Linked DNA regions of Homo sapiens. The protein of the gene in region 3 purifies or fractionates together with the protein of the main gene of each other region. This does not show direct contact. Each region holds a gene or a part of one and is shown on either strand. Other genes may lie near its edges.

Evidence for each region. The genes of interacting proteins can lie anywhere in the genome.
Region 1: the proteins of MED9 (region 3) and CDK8 purify together in Homo sapiens (affinity purification with mass spectrometry; 12 studies listed by BioGRID and IntAct, with this or other methods). This does not show direct contact.
Region 2: the proteins of MED9 (region 3) and MED13L purify together in Homo sapiens (affinity purification with mass spectrometry; 5 studies listed by BioGRID and IntAct, with this or other methods). This does not show direct contact.

Annotation. Positions count from the first base shown.
Region 1 is NC_000013.11:26,390,121-26,397,141, reverse strand, and holds part of CDK8 (cyclin-dependent kinase 8), read right to left. Parts: intron 3,776-7,021; coding exon 3,632-3,775; intron 858-3,631; coding exon 788-857; intron 1-787.
Region 2 is NC_000012.12:116,274,681-116,282,072, reverse strand, and holds the start of MED13L (mediator of RNA polymerase II transcription subunit 13-like), read left to right. Parts: upstream 1-4,379; 5' UTR 4,380-4,941; coding exon 4,942-5,013; intron 5,014-5,380; exon of another isoform or gene 5,381-5,601; coding exon of another isoform or gene 5,602-5,643; intron 5,644-7,392. UniProt on the Homo sapiens protein: Component of the Mediator complex, a coactivator involved in the regulated transcription of nearly all RNA polymerase II-dependent genes.
Region 3 is NC_000017.11:17,472,121-17,480,014, reverse strand, and holds the start of MED9 (mediator of RNA polymerase II transcription subunit 9), read right to left. Parts: upstream 3,016-7,894; 5' UTR 2,974-3,015; coding exon 2,750-2,973; intron 1-2,749.

The DNA of each region.
Region 1 (7,021 bases), on a different chromosome or scaffold from region 3:
ATACTATGAAATAGCTATATTAGACTTGAGGTTAATTGTACATTGGCTAAAGTCCTTCTGATGAGAATTATTTTGATCATAACCGATATAAAATATATATTGAAAACACTATGAGCATAAAATGAGTAGAATTAAATCAGTTTTCTATTTCATTCAATATCCACAATGGTCACTTTTGAAAGGATACCGATGATTAAATGTAAGACAATTTCATGAATAACAGACACTAAACAGCTTTTTTTTTCACATGAATTATATTTTAACAATTATTTTAAATAACATCTGGGTCAAAAGTTTAATTCAGCCTTACCAATAAGTGTAAAATACTTTTGTCATAGGTATACAAACTAAACTCTCCCAATCCCTGGCTTTGCATTGTAAACAGGTGAAATATCCATTCTTCTCTGTTAAAACCTGCTTAAAATTACTGTAACCTAGATTGGTGAGCAAGTGGCTATTACCAAAGTTTATTTATTTAGATTCTTATTTATTCAGCTGTGATACTTCTCACTAATGTCTAGCTTCCAAAAAGTAGTCAATATGGAAAGACATGAATTTGTTTTATATCCAAATCAGCTGCTAATATTAGTCACTTTTGTATATAATCATTTAAGCATCTTAAGAAATAAAGACTGTCATCATGAAAAATATTTATTAGAGTAAATAAGTAAAATTATTTATTAGAGTAATCTTATATTGAGTATTTTATTATGTTGAATATTCAGTCTTACACTGAGTATTCTGGTAAAGCAAAAATCAACAAGGAGTCTCTTTTTTTCCAACTTACGTATTTCTTCTGAAATCTTTCATTAATGTTGAATGTTCAGGCATCTTTTTTATATCTTCCCAATCTTTATCTGTGAAATACATTGATAAATTTTTATGTTGCCTAAGTTCCTATTCTTGAGAATTTTTAAAAAGGTTATTACCACGTTCATTACATTTCCTATCCGTTCAACCTCCACACAAAAAAGCTGTCTTCAAATAAATGTTCAGCAACAGTAAATATCTTGAAGTGTAAACATAATTCCTTATCCCTTATATAACTTTATATATCTGTTTATATTTTAAATTTTAAACTGCAAACTTTCTGTATGTTTTACTATAAGCTGCCTCAATTTCTGTCACTAGAGAAGAATAAGTTATACATATTTCTATTTATCTTATTAAATGTCCTCTTTCTATTAGTAAAACTGCTTATTTCCCCTTTTCTACCAAATTTCTTGGTTAAGTCAGCAATCAATTTCTTCAATGAGAAATCTAAGATCTTCCCCTCAGTGGCTTTAAACTATACTTCTTTTTATGATACAGCCCTCCTTTCACCTTGTTAAATATATTTCTTTACATAAGCAATCAATGGAAGAAGGGGTAATAACTATTTGCACAATAGGGTAGGATATAATTAGTATATTAATAAGTGGGCTGGTACCTTGGCTAGTCTGGTTAACATTACCCAAAACAACCCCAGCTCCTAAATACGTTAAGTACAAAACGTTTCAGCTACTTTTGCTGGCATCCAAGTTGCTCAAACAATACATGCTACATAATGTGTTCTCTCCAATATCTGCCAATGGGTTTTCCTGAGAGTCTACTAGGTGCAAAGGACTGTCACAGGCAGCTTAACAGCACCTTTAGCTCTTTTTTTTTTTTTTTTGAGACGGAGTTTCGCTCTTGTTAACAGCCCAGGCCGGAGTGCAATGGTGCGATCTCGGCTCACCCCAACCTCTGCCTCCCAGGTTCAAGTGATTCCCCTGCCTCAGCCTCCAGAGTAGCTGGGATTACAGGCATGTAATCCCATGCCTGTAATACATTACAGGCATGTAGCCACCATGCCCAGCTAATTTTGTATTTTTGGTAGAGACGGGGTTTCTCCATGTTGTTCAGGCTGGTCTCAAACTCCCAACCTCAGGTGATCCGCCCACCGCGGCCTCGCAAAACCTTTAGCTTTTAAATGGCCTTTAGAGGCTTGCTTTTCTTTGAACTTACTTGTAAAAATATTTGGTAACTATCCTCCAAAGACATCACATATTGTAAACTAAACATACACTACACTCCTAAATGGAATTTTCTCCTTAACTATTTTCCTTGCTCCAATTTCTGTGTTTTATCAATTTCTCATGCTAGAAATTTTAAGATAATCTTTAGTTTTCCCTTGCTTATACACTTCCTATAAAACATTTCCATCTGCCCTTTTTTCTCCATCCTTATCTTCACTCTACTTTCTGTCTGCAGCACTGCTACAGCTGGTTTCTGATTTCAGTTAGCTCTTTTTAACAGATTTTTACCTACCACCATCTTACTAAATCTTTCTAAAATGCAACATAAAGCATGTCTCTAGTACTCAAGAACTGATGGATTCTCATTCTTTAGCTATCAAATCTAACCTCTGCTGCCTGCTTTCCAAGCTTCCTTATAAACCACCCTAACCTCTGAACCACATATTAAGAGTCACTGATAGACATCTTCACCACATCTACTCCCTCACAGAAGCTATGCCTTTCCCGTGGGCTCAGAAATGGTGGACACATTCAGAAGCAGGAAGAAAACAGAATTCTTCTGTCTCTACTCAAAACCATACCTACTTTTTAAACATTCTACATATAGCAGTACAATGCAAACTCCAAGGGGGCAAAAATCATGTCTGTTACATCATCAATAACTTTTTACTTAAGACAGTGCCTGGCACATGGCAGGTACTCAATAAATATTTACTGAATAAATAAAATTCCCATCACAACAGAAGTCTTCTCCACACTGGTGACCAATTTTGGAGAAAGGCAGTATCTGTGTAGTTATTCTGCATTTACTGATAATTAACACCCTTACAAGGGAATGTAGAATTAAAAGTCCCAGGTATTATCTCTATTAGTCTTGAGTTTATAGTGACCTGAGAAATATTCCTAATAAGAAACACTTTCTACTAAGTACTTGACTAGCCAAAATTTAGGTGTTTTAAACAAATTCTCATTATTCTGGACCTCTGAGCAGTTTTTGGTGATTACCGTTCTGTAATATAACTAGGGATTGAGATACAGTTGGAGAGATCTAATACCAGGGATAGGATACATGTAAACCATCTCTCTGTTGCAAAACAGCAGGCTAACTCACCATAGGGTACTATGACTCTCACCCACATTGTGACTGTTCTAAGAGAAGACTTAAATGCTATTATTCAATATAATGTGATTCTGTATAGTGCCCTAAATAGAAATAAGGTTCAAAATTTATATTTGAATGCCAAATAGTGGCAGTATTATATGTGCTGCCAGAAAAAAATTCCTACTACTGAATTCATTTATAGTTTCTACTGGTAAGAGCTAAAGGTACCTTTTTAATACAGATATTGAACATATTTTATCATTTCAAATACCAAATAACAAAACAAAAAAGTAAAACAAGATGAAACAAAAATACAGTCCTGAAATTCAGGAAACCCATAAATATTTCCATGCCAATATGTAAACTCTACAAATTTTGCTGTTTCTACGGATCTTTGATAAATGCAAGTCAAAAAACAAAGACTCAAGTAAAAGTAGCTTCCATCAGCTAAAAATATATACCTCTCCAACGAAGACATCTAAGTTCAAACAACAGTGATTTAAAAACAAAAACAAAAACGAATAATGTGTACCTGCAGGAAATCCCATTACATTGAATATTCTGTCCAGCTGGTCATGGTGATAAGGATTACTAGTTTTGATGTCCTCTTGTCGACAGTGAAATATTGGTTCTGACGTTAGTAGTTCTGCAAATATACACCCTATAGCCCAAATATCTTTAAAACAAAAAGAAAAAAAAAAAGAAAGAAAAATAGGCAAGGAAAAAAGAAAAAGAAAGGTGCAAAATAAAGTGGTTCTTTCCAAAAGAAAATGCAATTTTATTTTCTTGGGGAGTGTTTTTTTCTTTCTTTCCCTAATAACTCATATTAATTCCTAAGCAATTATAATTACTAAATACCATGAAACATTATTATAAGTATATATTCCCATGCCCTCCACCCCGATTTTTCATTCTGTATACCTCCATACCACCCAAATGGTTTCACTCTAAGCCCAATTAAATGTACTGGCTGGATTTTGGTGAGTTTTCAATGTCCAGGTGATACCTTTTCTGTGAACTACAGTAAAGCTGCATATGGAGCATGGGAACTACAACCAAAGAAAACTAAACAAAAACAAACGGAAAACCCAAACAGTATTTGAAATTGGGCACTCGCCTAACATAATCAGTGTAAATTTTTGTGATAAAATATTTTTTATTTTATTTACTTGCTAATTTGCAAGGTCTAATAATTACCCTCTCATGTTAGCACTAATCAGTAAGGTGGTATTCCACCAAGAGACAATGTCCGACCTCAAAACGCCTAAGAATTAACAGCATTTCTACTTTAACAAAGTTTTTTTTCCAAAGTGGTTCTTGATGCCATAAGCAGTATCAGATTTTGCAAATTTAAGTATTTAATGCAAAGGACAGGAAGCAAAAGCAAAATATTACTGTTAACATGGATTATAAATTCGGCCGGGTGTGGTGGCTCATGCCTATAATCCCAGCATGTTGGGAGGCTGAGGAGGACGGATCACGAGGTCAGGAAATCAAGACCAGCCTGGCCAACATAGTTAAATCCTGTCTCTACTAAAAATACAAAAATTAGCTGGGCATGGCGGCACGCGGCTATAGTCCCAGCTACTCAGGAGGCTGAGGCAGGAGAATTGCTTGAACCCGGGAGGCAGAGGCTGCAGTGAGCCGAGATCGCGCCACTGCACTCTTGCCTGGGCGACAGAGCAAGACTCCGTCTCAAAAAAAAAAAAAAAAAAAAAGGGTTATAAATTCAAATGAATTATTGACAAAAGCCAGGCAAATGGGTTTCTCTGTACACAACAAAGTAAATTCCTTTCATTCACAAGATACAGATTTACTTTCATTCAAATTAAATTTGTACTCAAAAGAACTATTAGTAGAGGTAAGATCTATTTGCCAATTTAGAATTTAAAGCTGAAAATATTTCATTTCTACTCTTAACAAATCCTAAACTAAGTACAATGGTGTGCATATAGCAGACCCTCAACACATGGTTTTTGACTGACTTAACCAATACCTGTGACAAATATAAATAACCAAAGGGAACAAATCAAAATTACTATTTTATCAAAGCTGATTGTTCAGATATGTTAATAACTGTCACTTAAACAGGAAATAAGAAAAAACCTAAAATGAGAATTCCTAAATTCCAAAACTGGAATAGAGATATTTAATTTAATCTAAAATTTCACATATTTACATTTCAAAGTAACAAGTTAATCACCTATTTACTTAAAGATTCACACTGACTGCAGCAAGTGATTTTAAAAAATGACATCGTATTTACATATCAGAGAACCAAGCCTAGCCAATACCATCATATGGAAAAGTCTCATCAAGAAACATAGGCCAACCTATTTTGTTTTTGTCATCGAAAGGTATATGGGAAAATTAATTATTTTGTGATTATTCTTTTTATATGGGTATACCCTATAAATCTAACCTTTGATAATCAATGGCCACATAGGCAGCTAAGTAGGATCACAAAAAGGGATGATGGATGGCTTTGCATGTTTAAAATTCTACTTACAGCACACCCAATAAACACTGTAACAATTCATCTGGTTAGTTATTAAAAATTCCAAAGAAGAAAATAAAATATGTAAAGGAAGATGAAAGGTAAGTAGTTTAGCTATAATTAAAGCTACACTGCTCTTAGCTGAGCATACTGGCATATGCCTGTAGTCCCAGCTACTCAGGAGGCTGAGGCGGGAGGATCGCTTGAGCCCAGGAGTTTGAATCCAGCCTTGACAACATAGCAAGACCCTATTTCACAGAAAAAATGTATGCAAAGCTACACTGCTTTTTAAAGAAAAAGTCCAGTCAACAGGAAAAATAACTTATTGAACCTTGCTTAACTCCCTCCCATCTAGTAACTCTTCTGTCTTTATAACTGCTATTCTCTCTCACCTTTGTCAATTTTACCATTCTTCCTTTCTTCAAAATCCTGACCCATACATTAATCATTAACTCTGAGTCAGCTGATCAGGCTATTATTGCAGATAAATTTCTAATTATTGTAAATAAGTTTCTTTTTCCTACCTTGTTTTTTTTTTTTTTTTAGATTGTGCCCAATTCATGGAAAGTCTCTTTAGTGTTCACCTGCCTGCCAAACTCCTTATAAAATGGCTTTCCAAATTAAAAACATATAAGTTTCATCTACTTCTCAAAATGTGTGATGCTTATAGGTAGCTACTGAGCTAACCAGGCAAAGGAAATAGTAGGAATTGGCATGCTATACAGACCAAATTTGGGAGGAGAAAAGACTTTGCTCAATAATATTTGAATCAACAAGTGTAGTAATAGCAAGCTTCTTGTTTTGATAAAAGGGAAGAAATTCTCATTTTCTCTATTTTAATGTGTATTTCCCACTTAGCAGAATGCCTCACATTTAGTGGCCATGCAGCTATTTGAGGACAAACACCTGAGCTTAAAAGTCCATACTTCAGTAAGACTTTTAGGACTACTTTAGTGGCACTGAATTAGAGATTGATATCCCTTTTTTTAGCCTTTTCCCCAAAGTAAATCAGACAAACAAAAATAAAAAACAAAACACTCAAAAGTGAATTAAACTTAGTTCCTGGGATTACAATGTTTACTAACCTATTATTTCCTCTCTTTGGTTTAGTGACTCAGCTTGCAGTTCTGCACAACGGAATAAACCAGCACAGCACTACAATCTGTTTGTAGTAGATGGGGCATATGTGAGTTTGATGCGTTCTGATCAGATTTTTTTCCCTATGCTTTTGCTCCTTCTTAGTAGCTTCGTAACAGATGTAACCCCTTCATTAAATGGAATGTATTCAGCAAATTATCTGTATGTTCAACTAGAAAGGCTCTTCTATCACCTGCTCACAATTCAGCTATCAAACAAGGAAGTCAAAATGCTGGGGAAGTTCTTGGTAAGCAGCTTTAATGGTGGTGTGAGAAATTTGTTGAGTAT
Region 2 (7,392 bases), on a different chromosome or scaffold from region 3:
CTTACTGCACTGAATGGATATGTATACATTTGGTTATTTTATTTTATTTATTTATTTTTGAGACAGAGGCTCACTCCATCGCCCAGGTTAGAGTTTAGAGTGCAGTGGCAGGAGCTTGGCTCACTGCAACCTCCACCTCCCAGGTTCAAGCAATCTCCTGCCTCGGCTTTCCAAACAGCTGGGATTATAGGCACGCATCACCATGCCCGCCTAATTTCTGTATTTTTAGTAGAGATGGGGTTTCACCATGTTGGCCAGGCTGGTCTTGAACTCCTGACCTCAAATTATCCACTCACCTTGTCCTCCCAGTTCTAGGATTCTAGGATTGCAGGCATGAGCCACAGCACCCGGCCAACATTTGGTTATTTTAAACAAAGGAAAAAAGAAAATGCAAACAGTATGGTAAAAAGTAATCCCACTCCAACTCCCAGTCCCCCTAGTTCCCCTCCTTAGAGGCAACTAATGTTACTACTAGTTTCTTGTTACCCTTCCTGAGGTATCTCAATAAATAATCTATTTTTGAGATTATTCCATATTAGTGCAAATAGCACTAACTCATTATTTTTAATGGCTGCATGGGAGTAAATTATATTGTTAACTATTCCCCAAATGATGGACATGTTTCTAGTTTGTACCCTACAAACAATGCTATAGTTCATATCCCTGCACTGCATGTCTTTATACAATCGTACAAGTATCTCTGTTGGATAAACTTCTAGAAGTCGAACAGCTGGGTCAAAGGCTGTGTGCATTATAGATTTTGATGCTAGTTGAACGGACATCCAAAGCTATGGTGTTAATTTATATTCCCACCAGCAGTGTATGAGAGTCCTACTTCTCTCTACATTTGTCTAAGCTTTTAAAATACTGTCAATACTTCTTGTGGCTTTAATTTCTGCTTTTTCTTATGATGAGTGTGTTAGTCGGCTCCAGCTGCTATAACAAATTACCATAGACTGGGTGGCTTTAAACAACAGACATTTACTTCACACAGTTCTGGAGGCTGGGAAGTCCACGATCAGGTGCTGGCCATTTCAGTTCCTGGTAAGGACCCTCTTCTTGGTTATGTCTTCACACAGTAGAGAGAGAGAAGCAAACTCCCTTGTGTCTCTTCCTACAACGGCACTAATTCCATCACGAGGGCTCCACTCTTATGCTAATTACCTCCCAAGGGCTCCACCTTCAAATATCTTTACAGTGGTGAGTAGAGTTTCAACATATGAAGTTTGGGGAGGACACAAACATTCAGCCAATAACAACGAGTGAGGTTGAGTAACATTTTATATACAATCAAGTGTCAATGATGGGGATGTGTTCTGAGAAATGTAACACTGGTGATTTCCTCATTGTGCAAACATCATAAAGTGCACTTGCACAAACCTAGATGAGATAGTCTACTGCACAGCTAGGCTAAATGGTATAGCCTATTGCTCCTAGGCTACAAACCTGTATGGCATGTTACTGTACTGAATACTGTAGGCAGTTGTAATATAATGGTGTTTGTGTATCTAAACACATCTAAGCTTAGAAAAAGTACAGTACAAATATGGTATTATAATCTTATGGGACCACTGTCATATATGTGGTCCACTGTTGTCCAAAATGTAGTACATGACTGCATTTAAAAGCTGGTCTTCTCTATTCTGTAAACTGTCCAAGTCCTTTATTCATGTTTCTATTAGGTTTTGCTCTGAAAGATTTATCATTAGTATTTGATTTTTCGAGAGAGGGTCTCCGTCACACAGGCTGAAGTGCAGTGGCAAGATCATGGCTCACTGTAGCCTCAAATTCCTAGGCTCAATCGATCCTCCTATCTCAGCCTCCCAGGTAGCTGGGACTACAGGTGAGCACCTGGCTAATTCTTTTGTAGAGATGGGAGTTTGTCATGTTGCCTTGGCTGGTCTTGAATTCCTGGACTCAAGCGATCCGCTGGCCTTGGCCTCCCAAAGTGCTGGGACTACAGGTGTGAGCCACTGCACCTGGCCTATTACTATTTCTACTTAAACCTAAACATGCTGAAGAATGACAATTTGGTCACCAGGTGAGTAGGATAGAACTACCTTCACCTCTGATGTAAATATATGGAATCTGGATATGATGGGCATTATACCCTCGAATTGCTCAGGCCTAAGTAACACCGTGTATGTTGACAGAGTGGTTTTTTTTTTTTTTTTTTACTTTTACCAACAGTATCTTTATTTATTTATTTATTTATTTTTTTGATGGAGTCTCACTCTGTCGCCCAGGCTGGTGTGTAGTGGTGCAATCTCTGCTCACTGCAACCTCTGCTTCCTGGGTTCAAACGATTCTCTTGTCTCAGCCTCCCAAGCAGCTGGGACTACGGGCACACGCCACCACACCCGGCTAATTTTTGTATTTTTAGTATTTTTAGTAGAGACAGGGTTTCATCATGTTGGCCAGGCTGGTCTCGAGCTCCTCACCTCAGTTGGTCTGCCCGCCTTGGCCTTCCAAAGTGCACGGATTACAAGCGTGAGCGACTGCATCCGCTCATCAACAGTATCTTAATAGAAATTCTCAATATTGGCCTGAGGTCATTGGGTCAGCAATCAGGATCAATTTTTGAGATTAGGAAATGAGGCTCAAAGAGTTAAACTATGTTGGTCAAAATAATGCAATTAGAGGGATGGCAAAGCCAGCCAGAGGCATCTTTCTAAGGAGCCTCCTGAATTCATGCTCGGGCTCTGGAGTCAGAAGGACCTGAGTTTGAGCCATGTACTAACTGAGAGATTGGAGATGTCACTGCACACCTCTGAGTTTTACCTAATTACAGCCTAAGAATAATAACAGTATCTACTTTAGGTGGTTGTTCTGCGGATTATGTGAAATAATGTAGGTAACGACATTCATTGTAACAATATGTTGCATGATAATACACATTATAACATGTTGCTCATGAGTTTTGCTTTAGCAGTATTTGTGGTAGTTCCAAAACTCAGTTCACGTGTCTTAAGACTTCTCTTATTATACACTCTCATCTCTTCCCTGCTTTCTACTCTTCCTTTTTTTTTTTTTTTTTTTTTTTGAGACAGGGCCTCTCTCTGTCACTCAGGCTGGAGTACGGTGATGCGACCTCGGCTCACTGGGCTCACTGCAGCCTCTGCCTCCAGGGCTCAAGTTATCCTCCCACCTCAGCCTTTCGAGTAGCTAGGGCTACAGGCACATGCCACACTACGCCTGGCTAATTTTTGTATTTTTGTATTTTATTTTTTTTGTCATGACGGGGGTTCTTGCTACATTGCTCAGGCTGGTCTTAAACCTCGGCTAGGATTACCGGCGTGAGCCACTGTGCCAGCCATCCACTCTTCCTCTTTTAGCTTAATCTACCTGAAACAGCTGATTGTTCCATGTTTGGAGGCGTATTAGTGAAGACATTGTTTTCTCCTCCCCCTTTTCGGGGATCCATTTCTTGAGGACTGGGAGAGCTTCTCTTCATAGCAGCACTCCTCCGGACTCCCAGGCCATATACACTCAGGAAATGTTGGTTATCCAATGAATGACGCCAGGAAGAAGGGTCTGCTCCCAACACGGCCTTAGCACAGTGCCTGGAAGTTATAACAGATTCTGGCACACAGCAGGAGCTCAGGAAACATTTATGTAATGAATGAATGAATGAATGAATGAGTGCACACAGTAACTAGGAGTAAGGGCTCAATAAACATTTCTGTATTAAACGCACAGTGTCTGGAACACAGTAAGCGCTCCGTCTATGGCAGCCGTGAATATCCCTGGGCGAAGCCTGTGAAACCTTGTCCAAGAGCTTGGCTTCACTGTGCGCGGGTTCGAATCTGGACTCCTCTTCCCAAGTGTGCGACCTCGGGCAAGTGATTTAATCCCTTTGTGCTTTAGTTTTCTCCTCTGCAAAAGGCGGACGGCGGCGCGAGCCTCTGAGGACACATTCCCCAGGGCACTCGGACCCGCTGCCTGGCCCACATCGCGGCCGCCGCGCCACGCCAGCCGGCCTGGGCTGCGAGGGCACAGGCCGGGGGTCCCGCGCCCTCCTCCGCGGCCACCACGGGCGCGCCCGGGACCCACGGTCCCGCCCCGCCACGATCAGTGCACCGCGAGGGGGCGGGGCGGCCACGAGGGGCAGCCCACGGCAGCCACGGGCCGGCAGTCCGCCGCCCGCCGGGGAGCCCGGCCGCCCGCACTTCTTTCTCTCCCTCTCTGCCTCCCTCCCTCCCTCTTCCCGGCCGGAGGACCCGGCCGCGCTCAGCTCAGCAGCGCCTCCCGCGAGCCGCCGCCGCCGCCGCCACTCCGGACCCCTCCCCCGCCCGCCCCTCGCTCCCCCCGCGCGGCCGGCGCCCGTCACGTGACCAAGCGCCAGCCAATGGCGGGCCGAGCCGCGGTCGGCGGCCGCCATTGCTGTCAGAGCAAGCGAGCCCGGGGAGGGAGGAGAAGCGAGGCTGACTGGGGAGGAGGGGGGGGTGGGGGAGGAAGAGGAAGGAGGGGACGTCGCTCGGCTGCCGGGGTCGCCCGCTGGCTTCGTCCGCACCCCCCCCTTCGCGAGTTCGCGCTCCGCGGCGGCGGCGGCTCCGAGGCGGCGGCGGCGGCTCCGGGGCTCGCCTCCCCTCGCGCGCCGGCGGGGGCCGAGGGGGAGTCGGTGGCTGGAGATAAACAAGGCGGCGGCAGCGGCAGCAGCGGCGGCGGCGGCGGCTGAGGAGCAGGGAAGGCGGAGGCGGTGGCCGGCCCGCAGCGCCGGCCCGGGGCGCGCGCCCCCCCCGCCAGCCCGGGCCCGCTGCCCCCGGCGCGGCGTCGCCGCGGCGCCTCCCGCCTGCCCGCCGGCCCTCGCGCCCTCCCCCGGCGGCGGCGGCGGCCCGGCCGCCCCGCGCTCCCCGGCGAGGCGCCGCCGCCCGGCCCGGCCTCGCCTCGGACGCCTCGCTCCGACATGCCCCGCTCTGGCGGCCGGGCTCGCGGAGGATCATGACTGCGGCAGCGAACTGGGTGGCGAACGGGGCGAGCCTGGAGGATTGTCACTCCAACCTCTTTTCGCTGGTGAGTAGCCGGGCTGCGGGGAGGGGGCTGTGCCGGGGAAGGGGGGGGGTCCCCGACCTCCGCCGCCGACCAACTTTCTCCTCCCGCCGCCGGGACTTCGCCCCTCCCTCGCGTCTCCCCGCCGTTCGCCTCTCGCCGATTCTCCCCCTTTTGGATCGTCTCTCTCTCGCCTTGGATCCCATCCAGTGTTTATTTGGCTCTTTAAAAATCATTTGTGAGCGCGGCGCTCGGCGTGGAATTTGCATGTGGAAGTCTCGGAGCTGCGGATTCTGGGTCGCACTTCGAACGCCCACCCTCTGTTGCAATCGCACTCCCCTTCTCCTCCCCTTTCCCCCCTTTTTTTCCCCCCGTAAATGTGGAAGGCTTTGCCTTGTGCTGCCGCGCCTCCGATCGGCAACCTCTTCCCCCGTTGTTGGATCAGCTGCCTGCCCGCCCGCCTGCCTTTTGAATTTTTTTAAATTCCATAATGACACCTGCAATTTCGCCCTAAAATAGTTGATTGAATGCGATTGTGTCAGGAAAGGACTCTTGCACCCGAAGCTCCCGCGATTGTAAACATCGACAGCCGCCTGCCTCTCGGGGCTTACTATGCTGGAGAGCCGTAAAGCCATTGCACCGAGCCGACGGAAGGTGGAGAAAGCTTTTTCTTCTTTCTCTCCTCCTGTGTCTTTTAAAAACTGTTTTTCTCTATCCTAACAACGAATCCGCACACACACACACACACACACACACACACACACACACACACACAAAAGCAACAAGCTGGTCGGTTTGATAACATCGCTTTTATCTGCCTTCGCCTCTCTCGCGCTCTCTCTTTCTGATAATTGACAACTTTTCCTTCGGATTTGAATCGCCTGCCTTAATCTTGAAGCAGTTAGGGTGTCAATTGTTCTCGTGGAAGCCTGGCACCCGCCGACGGTGTCTAGATTCATCGAAATTAAAAATGTATAGGGCTCCAGCAACTCTTTTCCTGGCGGTGTCAGTGACATTTGGTGGTAAATGCCATCTTTGCTTTTTATTGGGTCGTATTACCTACCTCTGAAAACATTCACGTTGTTAAACCTGGCGTTTAGGCTAATAATTGCAGTGCGTGGTCTTTAAATATGTGCTTTGTGCATGAGTTACTGTATGTATAGCTATGTGCCCAGGAGAGTACGAATTTGTTTAAATATTGAGCAAAGATTTGTAAACAGATGTAAGGCAATTACGTTTCAAGCGTAGAATATAATTGGAAAATTGGCTGAACGGTTTATTTAATTTAGCCTTAAAAACACCCAACTTGTTTTAAGTTGTGTACCCTGTTTTTTTTGGGGGGGAGGTGAGTCCCTTTTGGAGAGCATGCATTTTGGAAATTATTTTCTGTAACCCCCGCTGTAGATAGAAGCATTATTTCCCTCTTAATCCTTGTTTACACTGGATAAATAATTTAGTGTTCAAATTGTAATTAGTTACATTTAATTATGGGTGGCATAGATGCCTTTTTGCTATGAGACTAATGGAGAAATGCAAATTCTCGCCAACTTTTCAAATGAAAGTGTTACTTTATTAAATGTGTTACAATGCAGACCAAAAAATCAACACGTGATTTTTACCTACAAAGACATAGTATCATTGCTCCCACTCTAGTAAAATCAGGTAAATTTTTTTAAATGAAATATTTTAATCCAGATATTTAATCTTAAAATTCATTTATAAGTTGGAATTCTTTCTCTTAGTATTGTGATAATTTTCCCTTGATTTTTTGGTATGTGGGAGTAAAACCCCCTTTTGCCTCAACTTTTTCCCTCCTCAGTCTTATCATTTAGTATCAGTCAGGTTCAGGGACTTCCATAGATTAGCAAACATATTGATCAAGGGGTATTTAAAATGGTTTTTGTGTGGTTACTGGTGACCACATTGACACTTACAGGTAATTAAAATAACCAAGTAGAGCGATCTCCCAAATTATCATATATTATGCTGACTGGTAATGGCTGTGTATATACGGATTCTGTAGACAAATGAAAGTATATGTATAGCCAGTCTTTAGGGTATATCATTTCTTTTATCTTTTTTTTTTTTTTTTAAAGCTTAAGTAAGGATGATAACGTTACAGAGATAAAATGCTTGAGATTCTTTTGGAGAAGCAATTTTGTAGGAGAGGATTCTGTACTTTGATTTTGAATGACTAAAGGTTTGTGTTTGAGATATTTCTCCCCTAAACCTCTTTAAACCAAGGGATTGATTTTTGAATATGCTTTTTTAAAAAGAATTATTTTTTAAGTAGCAACTTTGAACTAGAGAACCATAGAAATGCTTAGTTGATTTTTTTTTTTAAAGGAACGTAGAATGTCTTCATTCTCTTGTACGTGGAGTGTGGATAAGGTGCTATTGAAG
Region 3 (7,894 bases):
CTTAAACAGACTTCCAAGTAATCTTCCTGTTCTTAGACCCACCTTCACCCCTATTTCCAGGGGGTCCTTGCACTAGAGTTCCTGAGATCTGGGGATAGGCCATGGTTAACAAACCAGGTGCTTAGGAGTTGGTAGATGAATTAGCCCTGGTCATCCACTTTGTGGCAATCATCTCCTGTCCTATTCTTTTTGGTTTTATGCTTTTTATTTTTGACACAGGGTCTCATTCTGTCACCCATGCTAGAATGCAGTGGCATGATCTGGGTTCAAGTGATCCTCCCACTTCAGCCTCCCAAGTAGCCAGGACTGCAGGCACACACCACCATGCCTGGCTAATTTTTTTTGTATTTTTTGTAGGGACGGGGTTTTGCCATGTTGCCCAGGCTGGTCTTGAACTCCCAGGCTCAAGCGACCGGCTCGCCTCAGCCTCCTAAAGTGTTGGGATTACAGGCATGAACCACCATGTCTGAAGGTTTTATGCTTTTTTTTTTTTTTAAACTCCCTTCTCTGTCCTTTTAGATGGAACAGAGACAAGCACATGTGATCAACCCACTATGTTTCACAGGTACACTCCTGAGTACATCTCCCAACAATCCTATGACATAAGCATTCCCATTTCACAAGAGAAAAACAGGCTCAGAGAAGCTAAGCTACTTGCCAAGGTCACCCAGTCAGCACATTATAGAGCTATGACATAATCTGAACCTCTCTTTTGAGGTCCACTATGGACATATTAGAGATAAGAAGATTATGGCCTAGAAAGGTTAGGCATTTATATCAAGATTAGAAGGCAAGAAAATGTCAGTACACAGATTTGAACACAGGGCTGTCTAACTTCAAAGCCTGTTCTCTCTAGTATAACTTACTACTACATCTTTTAAGGCCAACCCAACCCAGCTGCTCTACCAGGGCTCAAGAATATACTCTTGGGGAGTTCAAGAGCTGTCCTTGTGAATGTGTACATTTTGTGTTTTCATTTTTCCACATTTTTCTTAAAACCAGTAAACTAGGGTTAATCAGAATAAACCCTTTATAATCCAGCACTGCCCTAGGATTACAGGGGCTCCATATGTATTTCTGTCTATGATCATTATCACAGGCTCACGAAAACTGAATAGGCTGCCTTATCCTATAAGCATTACTTTTTTTTTTTTTTTGAGGCAGAGTCTTGCTCTTGTTGCCCAGGCTGGAGTGCAATGGCATGATCTCGGCTCACTGCAACCTCCACCTCCCGGGTTCAAGTGATTCTCCTGCCTCAGCCTCCTGAGTAGCTGGGATTACAGGCAGCCGCCACCACACCCGGCTAATTTTTGTGTTTTTAGTAGAGATGGGGTTTTGCCATGTCGACGAGGCTGGTCTCAAACTCTGACCTCGTGATCCGCCCGCCTTGGCCTCCCAAAGTGCTGGGATTACAGGCATGAGACACCATGCCTGGCCCCTATAAACAGTATTTAAACACCAAGTGAAACCAAATGAAGCCAGGGTCTAATGTGAGAACAAAGCCTTTGTAGTTATTTGAAAAGTGGCAGAAGAGCATCAGGTCATCCCACAGCAAGTGAATCTAATTTGCTTAAACTCAAAAGTGGGTGGGCCACTAACAGTCAAGACCTTCACGTTGTAACAATTCCATTTCAGTAAAACAGTGAAGAGCACATTCATGTTCACCTGAATGTTACTGGAATCGTAATTTTCTTTTAATTTACTTTGTTTTGGTCTTTAATGGTTGAGTAAGAGTTACAAGCCTAGGGGTTTACACCTAGTATCACGTGGATATACAGTGAAGTAACATAATGAAAATAATTTACAGCCTGGGCAACATGGTGAAACTCCATCTCTACAAAAAATACAAAAATTCGCTGGGTGCCATGGCTCATGCCTGTGGTTCCGGTTACTTGGGAGGATGAGGTGGGAGGATGGCTTGAGGCCAGGAGGTTGAGGCTGCAGTGAGCCGAGATCACGCCACTGTACTCCAGTCTGGGTGACAGAGCGAGACCCTCTCTCAAAAAAAATAATAATTTAGGCAAACATAAGGATCAGTGAGACTTTTGTGTTTTTGTTTTTGGTTTTTCCTCTACAGAGTCACTTTGAAAACTCAGGCTACCCTGAAGGCTGGCCAAAAGGATGACAACAATTATTTCCTTTGGTACTGTTAGAACAAAGTCAGTACAAGTGGGTCTAATCATCTGAGGCAACTTCTGTGTTTCTGCTTAGTCTAATGTTTCCCATCGCCACCACTCCCGTCTCAATCTTTTTGAATTGTGGGTTATTCCCAATCATGTCTTTTTTTCCTTCTATCTAAACCTTTGGGGGTGAAAAGTTGGCCCCTTTTACTGCGTCCATCCCGTAGCACTTGGCACAGGGAAGATGATGCTTATCTGTTGAGTTTGCTGAACTAAGGAACTAAAGTGAGTATTACCAACATTAAAGGTGAGAAAACTGAGGCTTAAAGAGATTTAATTTGCTCAAGATCGCTGGGATGAACATTTGAGCCGCTGGACAAGAGTCTGCATTTAGTCTCTAAGCTGGCTTCATTCTTAAGGATATCGCACCTCTCGAGGCTCAAATCGTTTGCTTAACTCATGGAATGTCTCTGTGGTCTTGGGAAAGGCCTCTTCCCGCTCTGGGTCTGAGTTTCCCCATCTGTGAAACGGGGGCGTGCCCCAGAGCGCCAAGGCCTCTTGCAGCTCTGAAACGGCTGAGAGGAGAAGCTGGAGGGAGTATGGGGCCTGGTCCTCTCCTAGGTTCTTACCATTTGATGATGTTGTGAACCAAAGGTAAAAAGGAGTAGTTCTCTTCCTCCCTCGCGCGGGCAGGTGACTGAGGCCGTGGCGCCGGCGACTGCTGCGGTTGAGGCGCAGGGACCGGCGGCGGCTGAGGAGGCGGCAGCGGCTTGGTGTCAGGCAGCGGCTGGTCGGACGTTGGCGGCAATACATCCTCCGCCTGTCGCCCGGCTGCCACCCCAGCAGAGGCCATGGCTCCGGGGGTAGGTTAGCCAGAGGTCGGGTCGCCAAAAGCGTCGCGCACTCTACACGTCACCACCGCGCGCCCTGCAGGGGCGGGGTGTGGAGGAAGGCTCTGAGCGTGCGCACTGGGCAGTCGGCGGGAAAAGGCGCGGAGGCGGGGGTGGGGAGGCTGTTGCTAGGCAACGGGCCGTGGGTGGGTCTGGGGTGCCTGGATTTGGATTGTGAGTCAAGATTGCTAAATTATTAAATAGTGAGAAATAGGGGTTTATTTCAGAAATAACAATCTTTTTTTTTTTTTTGAGACGGAATTTCGCTCTTGTTGCCCAGGCTGGAGTGCAGTGGCGCGATCTCGGCTCACCGCAACCTCCGCCTCCCGGGTTCAAGCGATTCTCCTGCCTCAGCCTCCCTAGTAGCTGGGATTACAGGCATGCACCACCACGCCCGGCTAATTTTATATTTTTAGTAGAGACGGGGTTTCTCCATGTTGATCAGGCTGGTCTCGAACTCCCCACCTCAGGTGATCCGCCCGTCTCGGCCTCCCAAAGTGCTGGGATTACAGGCGTGAGCCACTGCACCCGGCCAGAAATAACAATCTTCTTATTCCTATTCACACGATGAAGAGGGCCCCAAAGCCACAAACACAGGAAGCCTTGAGATTAGTAAGGTGCAGCCTGGCCCAGTGCACCCAAGTCTGGAGAGGAGCCACTGGACCTGTGGGAGGCGTAGACAGCACTTACCTGCTGGGTGAGGCACCAAACCCGGCCCAGCCCACAGTGCAAGACATCGAGACCTCGAGTTTAGCCCTAAGGACGCAGAGGCAAAGGGATTGCGGTCCCTTCAATGCTGCAAGGTTGCTTAGAAAGAGTCTAATAATTCAACTCAACACACATTTAGTATGCACCTGCTGGATGGCCACCTGTATGTGTGGTTGCAGGCAGGCTGTCCTTGCTTTCAGTACAAGGTAGAGGGGATTGGTGCCAGGAGTAAATATCATATCCTGGAAGAACGACAAGGTCAGGTACTCTCCATACCTTCGGGCCAGTTCCCCAAGCCCCTAGGTCCCAGTTTCCTCACCCCTAAAATCATATTTAGTTCAGATTCATGGCACAGCCTAAACTGCATTCTAACTTCACATGCGTGGCTGACCCCAAAAGGTCTTGTTGGCATGAGGACTCCCTAGGATCATAGGCCAAAGATGGGTTTATGGTTATGCTTCTCAAAACAAGTTTGATATGAGGGCTGTGTAGTAATTTTCCGGGCAATGGGGACACCCACCCCAAGCTTAGCTAGTGAGTAGAAGACATGAGTGGGGAAAGCTGTCAACTGGTGAGCCCATTCTGCTGTAATCCACCATCATGGGCAGTACAGAGAGGCGAGGAGGTCCACATCCACATAGCATGATGAACAGGAGCCTTAAGAGCAAGGTGGCCAGGGAAAGGATCAATGCTGATATTTTCAGGCACATTGGGAGGGCTGTGCGGAGGCAGATCCTTGGGGAGTAGGACCATAGATGGAAGTGCTGTTGGAGGGTGCGCTGTACAGGTTCTGTAGTAAAGGGCCTCAGCACAGCTCTCTGCAGCAAGAGCTGCCCACGGTGCCCCAGAGAGAGAGCAAAGGGAGGGAGTGGGTTGCGGAGTTTTCTTCCTTCTAACCATTGACCTCTCCAACTAAGGGAAAGTTCAAGAGTTCTGGTTGAGCATGGAGGAGAAAAAGGCCAGATGTGCTTGAAGAGACTGTATACCCTTGGAGTCATCTGGGGAAAGATGATATAGTAATAGTAATAATAATAGTAATTACCACAACTACCATGGAGTAAAAGTAGATACAGGGAACAGAGTTACAGTCACTGTCTCAATCCACAGACAGAGGTCTAGAAGATGGATGTCAGGATCCCCATTTTCTAGATGAGAAAACCAAGACTTACAATGGTTAAGATCCCAGCCTAAGGGTCAACGCAGTTGCTGATGCCAAGTCTATGATCTTAACCAACACTAAAGAGACTTCGGATCCCTACCAGTTCTGTAACTTTATGATTCAAAATGTTAAAGTGGGTTTGAATTCAGAATTCAAAAACCAATCCAATATTCATCAATAATATCCCCATGGCAATCACACGTCATCTTTGCCCTCCCAGAGTGTTTTATAACTTAATTATGAGCCACAACTATATCATTGTCAGAAAAATGAGGATGCTTCTTAAAAGAAAAAACACTTGAGGTATAAATAGATATGGCTAAAGAAAACAGGTTGAAAACCTAGGAAGCATGAACCAGTATGGTGCATTGACAGTTTGCCCTAAAAATAGTTAATATAATTAGTGGCAAAGAGTAAAGCTGACTTCATAATGTTGCAAGCGGATGTCAGAAAAATACTGCCTGTGCTGGTTTCATTAAAGCTGAAATTGCCACAACAAATGTGTGTCTGTTTATAACCTGCTCTGTTAAAAGTCAGGAAAGACAGATGCTCCATTGATATGTAAGGACAATGTATTGTGGTGAAGGAAACTTCACCCCACCACAAGGGAAGCTCTAAGGTCATTGCTTTCTTAGGTGGATTTATGCCGTTTCTCACGGGGCCTTGTCCAGTTAGTGGTTACAAGGTCAGGCTTTGGAGGCAGCCGCCTGACTTCAGCCTCAACTCAGCCTCCTTGGAGCTTCGTGACTGGGCAATTGCTTAATCTCACTTCGTGCAGCCATGCCACCTCGCAAGACTGAATGGGCCATTACTTGTAAAGCACTTAGAGTAAATATCTGTGCGCAGTAAATAGTAATTCTTCTTGCTATTAGATTTAGGACTTCTTACTTCACCAATTAACAAAACCCAGACAGACAGCAGCTAAGAGGAATGATCCACATCACTGCCCTTTGATAAAAATGTAAGCCAAACATGCAAGCCGCAGAGGCGGTGTTCAGTTTTCTAGCAGCCATATTAAAAAATAAGAAAACAGGTCGGGTGTCATGGCTTATGTCTGTAATCTCAGCACTTTGGGATGCCAAGGCGGGTGGATCACTTGAGGTTAGCCTAGCCAACATAGTGAAACCCCATCTCTACTAAAAATACAAAAATTAGTTGGGCGTGGTGGCACACACCTGTAGTCCCAGCTACTTGGGAGGCTGAGGCAGGAGAATTGCTTGAAGCTGGGAAGCAGAGGTTGCAGTGAGCCAAGATCACACCACTGCACTCCAGCCTGGGCGATACAGCGAGACTCTGTCTCAAAAAAAAAAAAAAAAAAAAAGAGAGAGAAAACATAGGTGAAGCTAATTTTAATGATACATTTTATTTAACCCAATATGTCCAAAATATTATAATTTCAACAAGTAATCAATATGAAAATTATTAATAGGATATTTTACTGTTTTTCCTACTGTCTTTGAAACCGGGTGTTTTACACTCACCGTACATCTCAATTCCAGCAGTCACATATCACTGCTCAGCATCCAAATGTGGCCAGCAACTACAGAACTGGATGGTGCAGAGAAATGGATTCATATCAACATAGACAACACTCACATCATAATGGTGGAAATGGAGGAAAAAGCGAGTTCTACAATGGATATAGAGTATATTACCACTTATGCAAATGTTGAAGCATGAAAAATAACATTCTCTATTGTCCATAAATATGACACCTATGTAAATGTATTTGAAAAAGGAACTGGGGGATACACCTCACATGGATGGGACAGGGGACGAAGCAAGGACTGGGAATATAACAGGCACAGCAACTTTCTATGTGGTGTTTTATCTCTTGTATATGAGATAACTTGAAGTAAATAGGATAAATATGAACAACGGCCAAATAGAGGGGTGGGTGCAAGGGGGTTTGGCACATAGACTCCATGCTCTGCTCCTCTCTGGCTCTATGACGCTGGGCAAGTTATTTAACCTCCCTGAGCCTGGGTCTCCTCATCTGCAAAATGGAATCATACAGTACCTACCTAATGGGGCTGCTGAAACAGTTACAAGAGGGAATGCATGTCAAGAGCTTCAAACAGTGCCTGGCACATAGTAAGCATCTATGTGTTAGCTACTACTGCTACTTAATTTTTTTTTTTTTCAAAAACCCTGGAGTAATTATTCCTTATGCAATAAACTGCTACTACAAGAACACATACAAAAACCAGACTGCACCCAGAACTGAACTTTCAGATGCTCAAAGTGGACCCGTATCACACATATCTATGAATATTCTTGTGATACAAGAATTCTGCTACGTAAAGTCCAAAAATAGTCATGTCTCCGTCAGACAGACACCATGGGTCTTGTTAAACTGATCATGTCATCATATGATAGAGGGCTTTTTCATCAAAGCTATATTCTTACTTATGATTCATCCTTTTCTTTTCATAACCTGGAGCCTCAGGCAGGTGGAAAAAGCTACACAATACTTTGATTTTTGTGAGTTAAAAAAAAAAAAGGCAGCAATCATTGTTCTGGCCAAATGTAGTGCAATGTATACCAGGAATCAGCTCACTGAAGCCACGATTCATTGCATAAACCTCAGACAAAAGCCCTTTGCTTGGGTCCACCCTGCGGATTGTCTTTCTTCTCTCTCTGAGCTCCACTTGAATCTCCTTTTTATTCTTTTCAGCCGTCCTCTCCTAACTCTGAGATACTCCATTACGTTCATTTTCTCAACTCATTTCTGTTAGTGGTTTCATTTCTCAGAATCATTTGTTTTGGGGGCATTTCAGCATACAAATCCGACTGTATTTTTTTCAGACTGAGAGAATGTTCTCCTTGAGTCCTTTCTTTTAGTCCTTCTGTTTGTGATCTTTCACCAGATCTTCACCAGCTGCCCTTAAATTACCAAACAGCTTTTGATATAATACAAATGAGAGGCAATCCATTCCAGGAACTAGCTTTTATCAAAAATGGTTCATTATTGTTCTGAAGCCGTATTTTTTCCAATCTCTTTACTACATAATTTT